Linked DNA regions of Homo sapiens: region 2 is linked to region 1. Evidence: fine-mapped expression QTL. A gene starts in region 1. The other region holds a variant in brackets. All regions are shown on one strand. Distances are from middle to middle.

Region 1 (8,000 bases):
TACTGGTTAGAGCTTCTAAAATGTAGCTTGTTTATGAGGATTGCTCAGCATACTGGTTTTCTGTCCAGGGACATGATGTGCATTTTGGGGAATTCAAAACCCGATTGAGGTGAGTAGAGGTCATTCATAAATCGAAACCAAATGATAGCAGAAGATATGAACTAAAGCTATTTCTTTATCTGCAAAGAGCTAATTGGGCATATTTCAGGCCAAGTCTCTGAAGACACAGCTCGTGAACTCTGTCTTCTTGATGCTGTGCTCATTATAGACACTCAACAGAGGACTGGCTAATGCTAGGGAAATCCCCATCAAGGTGGTCTTTACATGACACTGCAGATTTACCTCAGGAAGGGGAGCAAAGAGAAGGAAAATGCAGTGAGGGTTTCTAGCAACTAGCTGCTTGTGGAGTACTGTTTGCCTTGTCTAATTTATCTGAAACTGAAGAGTTTGTCTCTAAAGGGTATCCTACTTCAGAAAATCTCAAGGGACATTTGTCTTTCTGACATATCAGCTGTTAGCTAGACCTTATTTCTTACTTGGTTGTTTTTAGAGTAAATTTTGGTTCTTTGGTCCTTTGTCTGCTATTTGAGGTGGAGGATTAAATACTGCATAGATGACCTATGTATGTATAGAACAACCTAATTTTGCCACAGATACCAAAACACTATAACGATAATCTTCAATTAATCCAATTATTATCTAAATTTCATAACCCGTCCTCAATTATCTACCTTAATATTTCTAGGTAAAGAGAGATGTACTGCATTGACTTCCTGTTTTTAAAGGGTAAAACAGCAAGAGAAAGAAAGACATTGTAGATATTCACAATGTTGTATGTGAGGAAGTTTTTGAATGGCTTCAGAAACCCAAATGAATATATTGAGAAAGCAGCATTGTGAGTTCTGTCTACATGTGAACCCAAAACTAGGATTTGAGGTAATCCATTTTCAGAAAGAAGTGATGGAGTTTGAATTCTAGGAAATCTTCCTGAATAAAATGGCCATGTGTTGTAAAGTTTAGATATTTATAACCCAAAATAGAAGGAATTTTGCTAGGTGATCTCTCCAGTTCCTTTTCAGTTATGAGAGTCTGATTTCTTCCCATGAAAAGTGTAGAAAAACTTCCTTTACTGTTATATGAATGTTATAAAATGTATGCTTGTCCATGAATTAGCTGATCAAAGATAATACATGAAAAAGTATTCAAAATACTCTGTGAATCTTTTTTTTAAAAAACTCTCTTTAAATAGATTTTTGTATTCAGAAGTTATGCTTTGTAAATACATTTTAAATTTCAGATTTAAACATTATCAAGACAAAATTGTGACTATGTGCATGTAAAACTAGAGAGCACTGGAAAATATGGTGGATGGTAAGGGCCTTTTGCAAGGTAATTAACTTATCTATTGAGTTTTTTTTTTTTAATTTCTAAGTACTTAATTGACTCTCCCACTAAAATTTAAACATATACAAATAATTTTTCATTCAGAAGATAGGCATTTGATTTATAACATCAACATATCATCACAAAAACTTAGAGAATGAGAATATCTTAATGGGCACCTGGTCTAAACATTTTAATTTTACCAGGTAAAAAGGTGGAAGTGGCATGGCATGGTGGCTCATGTCTGTAATCCCAGCACTCTGGGAGGCCGGGGTGGGCGGATAACTAGGTCAGGAGATCGAGACAATGCCGGCTAACACGGTGAAACCCCGTCTCCACTAAAAATGCAAAAAATTAGCTTGGTGTGGTGGCGCGCGCCTGTAGTCCCAGCTACTTGGGAGGCTGAGGCAGGAGAATGTTTCTTTAAAAATAACATCATTAGAAACCATACAAAACAGAACTGCAAATACTCCCTTCTAAGGTGTAAGGTATTCCAACATTTCTTGTTTGGACGTTAGAATTTTTTCTTCAGTAAGAAATTAAGTTGAAAATGAAGTAGAACATCTTACACTGTAATTCAAGTGCAATACATTAAAAAAATAAAAACAGTGTTTAAATTGGGAAAATCCGTTTACATGTGATTAAGTTTTAATCAGTGCCCTTAACCCAGATCTCAACAGCTAAAAATGTTCTTAGCTTGACAAAATAACAACCCATCCCCAAGGACAAATACTTAAATCAAAGAAGCATTTTATAAATAAAAAAATTCACGCACACATACACACACAGACCCCCACAATACATGAAACATATAATAATGTTTGTCTTTATTTGTAATGAAGTGGATTTTATACTGAATTCAGAACACAGATGCAAATTCAACAGTTGAACTCAATCAAATAAGTAATCTTATATAAAAGGATATCTCCCTCCAGCATGTACTTATCCTGTGTGACAGATATCTCTGTAATAAAGTAAATTCCTTCAACTCAAGCAGATTGTCCGAAATGGAAACACAATGAAAGGATGAATATACTCAAATAATCAACAGAAGAGCAAAATATAAAAATGCGAACATTTTCTGAATAATGCAGATGCCCTCCCTCCAAAAGAATTACATGTGAGGGAATATCTATATTGTCATAATTACTGGATAAGCTGCCCAATAGCTATTACACTAATGTTTCATTAAAAATATATATTTGCTTTATGCTTTTGCAACTTGCAAAGTTATTCCTAGCAAAAAGTTATTTCTCCTGAAACAGAATAAATAGGTCTTTCACAATATGCACTGGAATACATATTTTTGAAAAACAAGATCTCCACTCACCTCTAATTCTATCTTTCTGCTGGTGATTACTGATATATTTATTTTAAAATACATACTTTATAGGAAGTATCGTTACAATTAATATTTAGGACAACATTATAATTCGTGTTTTAGAAACTACTAAGGCAAGAGGACAGCTCCTACCATTCTACAAAAGTCTTTCAGTTAAGAAGTGACTAATTAATGGACTGAGTGGCTCAGAGCAGGGAGCCAGTCCTTAGCCAATAAAGCCCAACTCACTGCCACCCCACTGCCCCATATTCTCTGTCCTCTCTGCTGGAACTGTCTTGTGCTGAATACATGAACACCTAAATATTCAACTCACTCCTGCCATTTCTCCGGTAAGCAATCTTCCACAACCTGTGCCTGAGACTTGGAGGCTGTTTGTGGTCCACAGGCTTTAGGCGCCCTAGGGAAAGCCACGTGCACTAGTGCATCTGGATGAACTGTGGACTTTGTCTATCCGCGGTAATTCAACTTCCTAAGAGCTACATTGACTCATTGATTTGTATCCAGGCTCCGGGCTCCCAATTCCCACACAACGTAAGCTCCCTGCAGCCAGGGGATTTGGTAGGTTTGCCGTGTTGTTTAGTTTCTCTCCCCTGCGACCCTCTCTCTGAGCCTCACAGTGTGTTTGGCACGTGGTAGGTGCTCGGTAAACCTACTTTGAATGGGAGAGGGTTGTGTTGAAGAAAGGAAAGGCTGGGAGGACTTAAGATTTGAAGGTTTTCCTACACGTGTCCAGGAAGAAAGAAAAAGAAAAAAGAAATGAGTATCAGAGTCTTATCATCATTACAGTTCTTATGGTTTTTAACCGACCTTTAGGAGTTCCACCGACGTGACCCAAGCAGCTGGTAGGAGAATCTGGGCTGGATTCGGAAGGCGCAGCTACAGGACGCCCGCTGCCCCGGATCGGAAGGCGCAGCACCTCAGGCCACAATCTCAGACACGCCCTCGGGTCCCGACAGGTGTTGCCCGCCTCCCACGGGGCTCCGGGACCCCGGTCCCCGGGCTGCCCCCTGCCTTCTGGGGCGCTGGAGCGCGCGCAGTGGCGGAGCTGGAGCCACCCAGTGCTTCGCACGGGCGCGCTCCGCTTCTCCGGGTTTTAGCGGAAGCCTGCGGGGGGCGGGGTAACCGCGGAAGCCGGCGGCCGTGGGCGCGCGGGTTGGGGGCTCTCGCGCCGCTCCGGGCTCTCCCCCCCCCCGGCTGCGGTTGCCGAAGAGAGGCCGGAGCGCGGCGCCCGGCTGCTCCACCTGGCGCGCTGAGCACCGCGCGGGGAGCCCCCGGGGGCGGGCGGTGGGGGGCGCGGACTGCGGGAAGAAGGCACGAGGCGTCGCCGCAGCTCGGTCAGGGGCCGGGGCCCCGCCGCTCGCCGCTGCACTAACTTGCCGCTTGGTCTCGCCTCGCCGCCGCGGCTCGCTGCGCTTTGGGTGGCGGGGGGCGGGGAGAGCGGGGAGTCAGAGGGTCTGCGGTGGCCGAGGGAGGGACCCTACGACGGGGAGCCCGCCCGGTGCCGCTCTTCTTCCCCTCCCCGCCCCTCCGCTCCCCCCACCCCGTCCCTTCCGCCGATTCCGGGAGCGACGGGCGCCCGTGACCTGCGAACGCTGCCAAGTGACGGTCCCCGAGTCTGAAGCGCCCGCGAGGAAGCGAGCGCCAGCGCGGGCCGCCGGCGATGACGGCCGCGAAGCAGGAGCCGCAGCCCACCCCGGGGGCCAGGGCGAGCCAGGCGCAGCCGGCGGACCAGGTGAGAGTCGGCAGCCGCGGCCAGGCCCTCCCGGGAGGGGTGGCTCCAGTGCGCGCTCCGCCCGCCTCCCGCTTCCCAGGCTGGGCTCCCGCGCCTCCCTCTTCTCACCCTCCCCCGCCCCGCCCCAGTTCCAGGCTCTCCTGCTTCTCCACGGACTCTGCGGGAAGTTAGAGCCTCTGCGTGCGCTCCGGGGCCCGGCGAGAGGATGCGCAAGGTGGAGAGCCGCGGGGAAGGGGGCAGAGAGGTAAAGGCTGAAGGTGCCCCGGGGAACCCCGGCGGGCGGCCCACCGAGGGAGGGAGAGGCGGCCGGGACCAAGGAATGGGGCCTCTTGGTTCCCCATTAACGCACGCTGAAGAAATCTGCTGCGCTCCTGACGGCCGCTCACCGGGTTCGAGCCCCGTCCTCCTATAGCCGGGGCGCTCGCTGGCCAAAGCGACCCGAGCAGGCGAATGACCTTTAGGCGGACGGGGTTTTCCCTCTGCTTTCTTGTTTCTTTTGAGGAGACGGGTGTGTGTTTGTGAGGTGGGGATGGGGGAAGAGTGTCCCAGACATCCGTAGTCTGCTGAGCGGAACGGAGCTTGGGGAGCGGCGAGGCATTAACGATTAAGTGGAGCCGGGAAGGCGCTGGCTTTGGTGATGTGTTGGGTTTGGATGTGTCGCGTCTGCACAGATGAGGTGCCCTGCGTGGGCTGAGGGTTATTCCTGTCTCTTTCCCGTCCGTCTACACCCGCCAACCCCTTTTTGTTTTGGTCTTTAGAAATCTGTAGCATAACCGTACCGTCGTGGATCCCCATCTCGTCTCTGTCCCTGATCTGGGGTGATTTGGGACTTCGGTGTCGCTCTTTTTCCAAAGTTGGAGGGTCGGGAGCGCCGAGACACCCTGGCGAGGAGGAGGAGGAGGAGGAGGGAGGCTGCGCTGAGCCGGGTGCAGGTGCGCTCACGTTTGCATCAATTAGGAACTCCGGGCAGAGAGAGCTGCACTTAGGTCAGGGATTAACTGTGGACCCGCGGGACCCAAGCGCTGGGGTAGGAGGACTGGGGATCTTTGTTCGGAGTGCGCTGCGAAGGCTGCTGGAGGCGGACACCCTCCCAGCTTATTGCTAGCGTGGGATAGAGGGAGCGCACGCGGCTAGGCTCCAGCAGCGACTCGGCTTTTCGCGTATTCTAAGCACTGAAGAGCCTCTTAAGGGGAGCTGTCCAAATCGCCCAGGAGTGGTGGCGAGACACAGGAGGCCATGCCAGCGATGCTGTTATTAATATTGCAGACTTGGTCATCTCTCCTGGCTTGCGGTTTCTTTTCTCCTCTTCCCTCCCCTTCTCTTTTCTCTCACATGTGTTTCACACAGGTGGTGGGGATTACTCAATGACTTACAGCTCCCTTCTCGTTTATTAGTGGGAGGGGGTTGAATGTTGGCAGTTCTTACAAAGCATTTGTTTTCTTAAACGATCCTGTTTGATCCATACTCTGAGATAAGTATGAAAATATTAAAACATCATACGTTCCTTCCTTTTATACCCCTTCCTCCTAATCCCCAGCACACATCAGAATGTAAACATTGGTTAGCAGATATAGAAAAATAATTTCAGAACGGGAACATGGATTGAACATCCTCTTTCAGGCTGACAGCCCTTAAATTTCATTAACAAGCCGCCGAGCCTCTCTACTGCTCTGGGAATGATGCTACCAGTAAGAAAGATTAGCCAGGTGAGAGTCCCCACATGAAATCTTTGCTCACTAACCTGTGACACCAGCTGGTTACTTGAGGCGCTGCAAACAGTTCAGTGATGGTGGAAGTGGGATGCAGAAGCAGAGCAGAGCAGAGCACACAGGAGCTGAAAATGTATGTGTAGATAGTGGACACGCTGTCTATACACAACAAATCCCCTTGTCAGGATTAATCTGGTACTTAAAATTCATATGAAGAGATAGGTGCAAGCTCGAATCCATTTTTCTTGTTAGTGTGCATTTTTTAATAGCCACTTCAAATATTCAGGGAGTGGCTACTTTGCAGAACTCTTGTTTTAATAGAGTATTTTAAGTGCCTTTCTGAGTATTGACATGATTTGAAAATGTCAGTTTTATGAATCTTATGCATGTGTTCTAATAGATTGATTTTACAAAGAAAGTCAACTGAAATATACACATGGCACCTCGCAGTGAGGGTGTTTCAAGCACTCCCAGGAAATACTCATATCTAGCATATTTTTGTTCAAAGCTTGACATATGAAACGATGGAAAAAGAATGTGAATGATTTTTGTGACAGCTTAAACTACTTTCCGTAAGACTACTAAGCTTTTATTAGCCATATTAGTCATTATGGTTTAATTCTGCAATTGCCACACAACTCTCGTGCAATACTAGATATAATATAGCTTCATAAAGATGTGATTAGTTGTGTGTTTTCTATAATATTTCATAAAAAAGATTCATAAATTTAAATTAAAATGTACCTTTATGAAATTTTACCTAGTGGTTAAATAGGGCACATGTTCCAACAAATCAATCACTATGCATTGATTTTGAATGATTTAAGCTATTGCATGTTTCCAAGAATGTCTTCTAGTTTCTATGGTGAAGATTTTTATGAAACCTCAAAGATGCCTTGTCCTGAGGCCATCAAACACCTATTTCCACTTATAGCACAGTGGAAGACCATAATCCTTCCTGTAACTGAAAATGGTTATGAACCATATAATTTGGTTACAGTTACAGTCCTGTAGAGGGCTCAACCTTCCTCTTTTATTTGATCTGTTAGTGTCCTCTGGCACAGGGTGCCATGACAAGAGGACATGCCCTCCCTCCCTAGAGAATGGTGACAACAAGAATAGGAGGGACCGTGTAGGGACCGTGTATTTTATGAATATTCTGAATCATTGGAAATATTTTTATCATCTTAGTAATCTTTCTTTTAAAGATTCTTTGATTACAAAATATTTATGACAGTTATTTTTGTTGCTTTCACAACACTCCACATTTACAAAATATCTAAAAACAAATGCCTTGACATGACTAGACACAATCATTTCTTAACATGATCAATATCTCAATTAACATTGAAAGAGCTAAGAACTCTAGTGGCTAATTGTAATTTATTATTATTTTTAAAAATCACTTCCTGAATGCTTGCCACAGGCAGAGTACTATTCTTAGGGTTCATAAAGTAACATTTCTTGAATGTATTTTTCTATTTGATTCTCAAAGCAGTTTTTTGAGGTGAGTCCTGTTTTTATTCCTATTTTAGAGATGAGAATACAGAGGATTAAGGAAGTTATTGTGGAAGTGAGACTTAGCCAGGAACTCATGGAGGTCTGAAGCCTCAACTTTTAACTTCTATACAATCATGATACAACATATTTCTATTGTAAGAATGAAAATAATTGCAAATTATATGTGTATGTGTGCACATGTGCACAAATTTACCTTGAATATAAAACAAATGAATAATTTGTTTAAAGCTTCAACTATACAAGTAAATCACAGCTCTGCTAATTTTAGTTAATATCACGCTACTGATCTAAATAATATAAAAGAACAAGATAG
Region 2 (8,000 bases), 380 kb before region 1:
ATCTGAACTTACTAAGGTCCCTTGAAAGTAACCACAAAAAGGCTAGATCTAAAATATATTAAAATCCATATACAATTAATTGTAGAGTGATTCATATAGATACAGTCTCTATTTTGTATTGCTTCTTTTTTAAATAGTTATCTGCTAGTGAACAAAAAAATAAATATATACTTTTTGATATTTCAAATAGATATCAAAAAGTATATATTTATAGCTTTTGAAGTATAACTTTTAAACTTTATCAAATATAAAAGTATATATTCTATTTGATATATAGGTATGTGTATGTATATATGTATATTTATTTGATATATATGTATTTGAATAGAAATAGAAAGTGAATACTAGTAACCTGATGGCTAAGAACGATCACATATTTATATGTATTCATTCAACACATGCACTGTGGGTTGTATTCTGTGCCAGGAGATGAGGATGCAGGGATGAATAAATAGTATTTCTGTCCTCAAGAAGCTCATACTTTATAGTGATTTAGAGACATGTATGATGAAATTGACACTCTAATGTGAGTCTGAACAATTTTTAGGCAAGCAAATGCTCTTCATGCACTACATTCCATAACCAACCTATGCACAGCAGTAAGTGGAGTCTTTGGGGCTTGGTTTTTGTTACCACGTTTGTTACAGAATGCCATATTTGGACCTATGACAAAAAAAAAAGTAATCTTAAGTCAGGCTTGCTTATTGGAGAATAAAATAGAATCATGAGGTAGGAGATTTGGAGGGACTCTGTTACAGTCAAATAATTTTATTTTAAGGAAAGCAGATTTACTCCTTAACACTATCTTAAAATCAGGAGAAAATGTAAGAAACTTTCATAAAATATTTAATATAGTTTCAAAGTTGTGAGCGTATCACTGTTCAGAAGTTAACTGCAAAACAGAGATGACTATATTTGCCATAATTATCAATAATGATGTATATATATATATATACTCTATAGTTACACTGGGATGAGCATTAATGGATTGGTAATGAATGAACAACAGCAATGATTCAACAACATTAGTTGGCTAAAGCTTCACAAGAATAAGGAAAACACAGCAGGAACCTTATAGAGGTAAGTGAAGCATGAAATTCAGTTACGTCTTTGACCTAATAGCATTAGGTCAAAGCCTTTCAACTTTATCTCTTTACTAATTATGGAACGAACCCTGTTTAAACTCTTCATACCATATAATTCTCTAAGCAATTCTTAGTGGTAGTTATTATTATTCACATTTTAGCGATGAGAAAATTGAAATCCAGATAGATCAAGTGACTTATCTAAGATAACCCAACCAGTAAGTGGCAGAGATGGAATTTGACCTCAGCCAATCTGGGTCCTGGTCCCCACCCTTGACTCTGTATGATACAGTGTTACAACAAGAGCATGGGTAGAGATGCAATTAGAAGGTAAGAATTATATCTGCAAAATCTTGATTAGTCCTAACAATAATAATGTAGTCACTACTGTTAACCCAACTTGATGCAGGCTAATAGCTAAAGGTCATAAAGTGTCCAAAGAAAGATTTAGTAGTAAGTACAATATCCCAGGAGAATCTACCTCCAGAGTGCAAGTCGTTATACTACTCAAGTTGATATCTTCCAATGTAGGTGTCTAAAAGCCCTTTCTAGTTCTGAATTTCACTGATTCTAAAAGGGAGTTTGTGGTTAGTATAGCTGGTGGGGGTAGACTTACATTGCTGCCAAGTGCAGAAATACACTAAAGCCATGCACAGCAACTCAAGGGTCAGCATTTTTGTCCCACTTCTGGGCATCCTGAAAATCCTTTCTTCTTTGAGCTTCCTCAAAATCTTGTATAAACTGGGCTTAAACTAGGTAGATCTCAGCTGGAGGGAAAGTTCTAGCAGGCTGAGGAAGCCTAGAAAGTTTGCATTCTCTAAGCAATGTTAGCATGAACTCTTTGTACTCATTACTTCTTAGTATATGGCAGCAGCTTCAGAAAGGTGAGTCAGGAAACATTCACATTCCCAACAATTAGAATGTCACCACTCTTTGTTCATTCTTTTGAATTATAGTCAAGAAGTGTCTTATTAATTCAACACAATGCATAAATATATCTTGAGTATCTCCAATGAATCATGTACTGTTCAAGCCTCTGGCAATACAAACAATAAAAGACACTCCTACGTCTCAAGGAACTATCACTTTGGGTGACAGAGAGAGACATCTAAACAAATATACTTACAATGTTGGTAATACATTCATGGAGGCACATGGGAAGGACCCAGAAGCAGAGGAGGTTCACTGTGCTTGGATGCAGATAGCAGGAGTTAATATGGAAGAAGTCAAGAATGTCTTCCCAGAGATGGTGAAAAACAAAATGAGTTTTGAAGATATGATGGGAAAATACACTGATTTTTAGATATAGCTCTAGATAAAAATAAAGAGACAAAGTGTTACAGGTAAAATTAGCTGCAGATACATCTTAGTTGTCATGTAGTTGATCCAATTGAGTGAACAATTGAACAACAATTAGAACACAAACAAACCTCCATGATCTGAGGCCTGCTGAACTCTCTTTTCTGACAGCCCTTCCCACTGCACATTGGATATAGAATGATGCCATGGCATTCCATGCATCCATGCCTTTGAACACACTATCTCCTCTGCTTGAATGACCTTTGCTGCTTATGTAGAAGGAAAAAACAGTTACATTCATACCTAAGGTTCCAGAGCTTCCAAGACCTTGTCAAAGAAAATAGACTCCTAGCTTTTCTCTACTGAATGCAATCTCCGTTATCAGGCCATAAGCTCCTTAGGAGCTAGCGCTAGATCTGAGTGAACACTGCCAGTAGTGTGATGAATTTGGCTTTTATAGGCTCAAAAGAAATATTGTTAAATGTACAACATTTTTTGAGCCATTTGTTAAATTTTTGGCAGCTTGAAGTCATCTATGGTGGGAGCTGACAAACACTACATTAAAAAAAGATCAAAAAATTTGTTGGATAAATTACATTAGAGTAATTTTTAAAGTCACATATTCAAGTTGTAGTGATTTAAATTAAATAAAGTTAGTGCAGATTATAAGAATTGATGAGTATTGAATTGATGAGTATTGGAAAAGGGGATGAGTGGAGACACCTCTCTGAGCAGTGTGAGTTTTGAAAAGGAAATCAAATTATTAGAGAAGATAATGGTAGCCAAAAAGACTTTCTAAGGATCAGTGTTCTCATAATTAAAAAAAAGAAGGCATAAGAATTTCTGCCAAACATACTTTTTCAAAAATAAAAAAGATATATGAAAATGTTTTATAAACCATGTAGTACATAACTATATAATATATACATTATATAGTGTATAGTTGCAATTATTGGACTAAAAGCAGTTAATACAGGCTTTACATATGTTAAGACTTTTATTCAGAAGTAAATGAAATGTACTCTTTGAGAATGGGTATATTTTATTGTTTTTTATAACCATATTCTCATTTATTTTTGAAACTCTTCTTAGAATAAGAAAAGAGTACAGGAAGACCAACAAGTCACATTCAAACCTTATAATTCTGCAGCCTAGGAAACACTGTCTTGTGCTGGAAATGGCTTCCTTTCTTCCTGGTCCAACTTTTTTGAACTGCCCATGGATTTTGCACTGTACAAATCA[C/T]AATCCTTAGAAATATATTACCCACATACATTTCTGAAGAGGGTTTTCAGGGCCCTTTTTTGAGTATTACTTTTGGATATATTATTCCTACTAAATTATATTTCTTCCAGAAAAAGTTTTGAAAAGTTGGCAACCTCCCTATTTCAGTCCTTCATATTATGCCACTTGTTACAGTCATAAACAGCAAGGAAAGAAGGAAGTTTGACCAAATGCAAATGGCTGGGAAGAAGTAGCCCTTTCAGAGTTGCTGAATGTCTCGTGTGAAAATGCTTTGTGGCTGAGCTTAAGAAATAAATATAAAGTAGTATTTAAATCCTCATCTCAAAGCTTCTATCAGTAATAGATATGAAGCCCAAAGCAGTAAATGTTTAAATGACTACTTTACATCTCTTAAATGCAGTGTTATGTCCTGGCTATATGGTAATGACATCATTAAACAGAAATCCTTTGAGCCGCAGAACCAAGATGCTTTATAGTAAGTTCTATGAAGTTACATAGTCAAAGAGTTCACTGTTCTTTAAGTTAGACTCATATCCGCAATTTTATGACAGGTTCTGCTTAAATAATTGTAGGGTAGTGGTAAAGCATGGACTTTAGGGTCAATAATCTGAAGATCTAAATTTGAATTTGTCGTGTCTTTCATTAGTTAGCTGACATTCTGGATTTCAGTTTCAAGACCTTTAAAATGGGAATAATAGCAATCATCTTAAACATGTCCAAGAAAGAGTGAGACAATTAAATAAATACATTACTAAGAAGGGCTATAAATGAAATGTTATTATAGGTATTAGCATCATCATTATCATTCATTACCCTAATCATTATCATCTTTAAGCAATATTAAGGGATGACACTTACAGATAGACTGAGTCTTACTCTCTGGGTCAAGAAGGTTATTTCAAAATGCAAGTTACTAAAGTATATTATATATGCAAAACATTTGGCTTATTAAAACTCAAGTGTCATGGCTCATAGCCGAGACCTGCACTTTCATATAAATGTGATTTGATCATATGTATCATATTCAAAAATATCTATTAGTCCTATAACGTTAGCCACAGTGGCTAATTTCTATAATAGCTTCACATTTTAGTTACTTACCAACATAAATATTTATTTCTTATTTATGTTACAGTAAACTTAAGTTTGCTTGGGTGGAAGGTTGTCTCTTTTTCACGCAATTATTTAGAGTTCCAGGCTTCATCCATCTAATGGCTTTGTTAAAGTCTAGAGTCTTGGAGTGTACCACTGACTCCGTTAATCTGACCGGCAGATAAAATAGTAAAGAAATCATGGAAGCTTGCAAGGAAAGTACATGAACCAGGCCTGGAAGTGGTATATACCACTTCCATGAAAAATCCTACTGGTTTAAAATCGGTCGCATGACTGCACCTAATTGCAAAGGAAGCCAGAAAATGTAGTCCACCTATATGCTCTGATGGAAGATAAAATGGATTTGATGAGTCTTGCCAGCCTCTGCCATAGGGTTCTAGCATATTACAATAAATTATGAATTTAATTGACCGAAAGACAAAGCGCAACTTAATGGTGTCACAATCCCATGTTAGTTATAAAAAATAATGTATAATCTATTCTCCCCTTTATGGTTACTGTAAAAATTAGTAGCACCCTAGTTAATTCAATGCCAGAAAGCAGCTGTCTTGAGAGTTCATGGTCTTAAGCTTTACATGCCTGGGCTCTATTTTTGGTCCAGTGGAGTTGGTACCTCTGGGGCCTGAGTAATCCCGTGTTGCAGCAGACAGAGTTCCTCTGCTGCAGTCAGGCCTTCTCATCAGTGTATACCCCTGTGAAACTTCCAGACTACACAGAATAACCTGGCTTTCTCTCCTGGATGTGGATGTGGACACTAAATGCTCTTCATCTGAACGAAGAGGTTTGTGTTTCATAAAGATTAAGCTAACTATGAGGAAAAAACAGGCAACCAGACTCTTCTGAGATTTTCTGTCTGCATATAGACATCAATATAAACATAGGTATATGTTTGTTCAGTATGGCTTTTATTATTAACAGAACAAGAGCCAGCTCCCTGAGAGCTACCCAAGGTCCTAAACCACCTCTGATCAAAGTTATCTCATATCTAGGGTAGCAGAGGACTCCTGATTTTTCAGAGGACCTATTCCCGTCATATCTTATAAAATGTAATGATTGACTTCTTACATACAAGCTGCTAATTTTGATATGGTCTAAGCTGATATCAGTTTACGCTGAGGACTTTTTCATATCCCAACATAACTTGACCTTTCATCCCATTTGATTGCATGGTCTGTTCATGACCAGCCCTGACCTGTGATAACCCTCCTTTATAATATTCTGGTGTTAAGGATGCCCAACCTTGCGCTAAAGTAACCTGATAGACCCAGAAATGCTGCCAGTACAGCTATTTTATCAGGTGGGATTTAGATATTTATGCTTCTGTGATCATGTTTATCAAAAATTCCAAAAACATTTTCTCATGAGGATAACATAAGAAAGGAGGGAAGGGGCTGAGCACGGTGGCTCACGCCTGTCATCCCAGCACTTTGGGAGGCCAAGGCGGGCGGATCACGAGGTCAGGAGATCGAGACCATCCTGGCTAACATGGTGAAACCCCATCTCTACTAAAAATACAAAAAATAAGCCGGGTGTGGTGGTGGTCGCCTGTAGTCCCAGCTACTCGGGAGGCTGAGGCAGGAGAATGGTGTGAACCCGGGAGGCGTAGCTTGCAGTGAGCCGAGATTGCACCACTGCACTCCAGCCTGGGTGACAAAGCGAGACTGCGTCTCAAAAAAGAAAGGAGGGAAAGGAGGGAAGGAAAAGAGGGATGATTGATTTTCCCTGCCTTACTCACAGGATCAAATATGATAATGCAGACAAAACTGTTGTGATGATATAGAGTATTTTTGTCATCTAACTCATCTAACTCCATCAAATAATAGGATAGCTTGGTTTTGAGAAAACAAGTGACAAATTATCATACTTATTTTTCTCATGAAATATCCTTCATGTGTGATCTTTATATTCTTTGGAAAATCTAAAAGACTTACAGTTAGTCAAAGTAAGCACCAACCTAAGTTCCAATCTAATTTCAGAAGTCTGAATCATTATTTTAATTCTTTAGGGTACTGGAAGGAATTTAGGTTCAAGATAGCTGTGAACAATGTGTTTATATAGTAAAACAAGATTTATTTATTTGTTATCACTAAATTCCATTTAAATTTTACAATAGCTATTATTACAATAACACACTATTAAATTACAACTGCATTTATGTAGATACAACATTCCTCAAAAATGTTGTTTGGTATTTAAAGGGCATTATTATGATTATCAGAAAGAAATTTTGTTAAATTGCATTTAAGATATCTTAAATGTTTATCTAGTTGATTGGTTGATTTATTGACATGAGTAGAATATTTTAAATTAGTAGGCTACCTAGTTAAATTAATGAATTTTTATCTTTAGTATCATGAATGAAAATGTTGCACATGTTGAGAATGAATATGAGACAGTCTTTAAGTCAAGAGCATTACAATCTGATTGGGAAGATTATTCTATTGAATATCATTTGTCAGTTACTGTGAATAGAATGGTGAATGAGACATTTAATTTGCATGTACTTGTCATATCTTTCCTACTAGGATATAAGCTTCAAGTTTCAGAAGATGAGAAATGTGTTTAACATCTCCCTCTCTCTCTTTTTGTACAGCTCTTGATTGTCACAAAGTCCGATGTGCTTGTAGTTAGCAAAAATAGTTGGATAAGATAAATAAATGAATGAATAAATACACAATAACATTTTGTAGAGAGGATGTAATAGATCCTAGGAACTTCCATTTAACCTGTGAAATCTCTCCACACATACAGTTCAGAGGCAAAATGTTCTGGTTTTCTAAATCCTCGTGATCACATCACTGTTGTCAGTTTGCCTTAAAGAAAAAGTTGGAAAAGCTCATAGAGGCTAGTTGCTTTTAGCTGTGAATCTCCAAATACTTGAACATTTCAGAATGAAGCCAAACACTGTTTAAAATATCAGCAAGTGGTTATCCATGGATGGTGGGATTCACGGCTTAATGTTTGTTTATGTTTTCATTTATTTATTATTCTTTTGCAGAGGGGCACAGATAGATCCATTATTTGTGACACATGGTACAGGCATTTGAAAAGATTCATTGATAGCAACATCACAGCAAGTAATACAGAAGTCCATATTGTTTTTCCATCAAGAGTTATGCTGAAACTAGCAGAGCTTATGCTATGAAAAGCCCCCTGGTAGAGAACCTCTTCACCCTAACAGCCTACATATGTGGGAAAGGGAAGCAGGGCATATCTAGATGAGTATATAATTGGGGGAGCATCTTGAGAAAGACAATGATC

Direction of the effects. Positions count from the first base shown, and alleles are read on the strand shown. Sizes are in standard deviations (SD) of each study's normalised expression.
With allele C in place of T in region 2, the expression in esophagus muscle of the gene that starts at base 3,772 in region 1 is higher (moderate effect, 0.43 SD a copy in GTEx).

What was found. PIP is the estimated chance that this variant, and not a neighbour inherited with it, causes the effect.
Region 2: its variant is fine-mapped to the expression of DPP10-AS1 in esophagus muscle (GTEx, PIP 0.90).

The regions. Positions count from the first base shown.
Region 1 is chr2:115,157,572-115,165,571 of GRCh38, forward strand. DPP10-AS1 (DPP10 antisense RNA 1) reads right to left here and starts at 3,772. Exons shown (of 3, transcript NR_036580.1): 1 at 3,533-3,772. All of the region lies in intron 1 of DPP10 (dipeptidyl peptidase like 10), which reads left to right.
Region 2 is chr2:114,773,727-114,781,726 of GRCh38, forward strand. All of the region lies in intron 1 of DPP10 (dipeptidyl peptidase like 10), which reads left to right. Among named protein-coding and RNA genes, the nearest start is that of DPP10-AS3, 56 kb to the right of the region's middle. The variant C/T (reference allele first, on the strand shown) is at 3,627.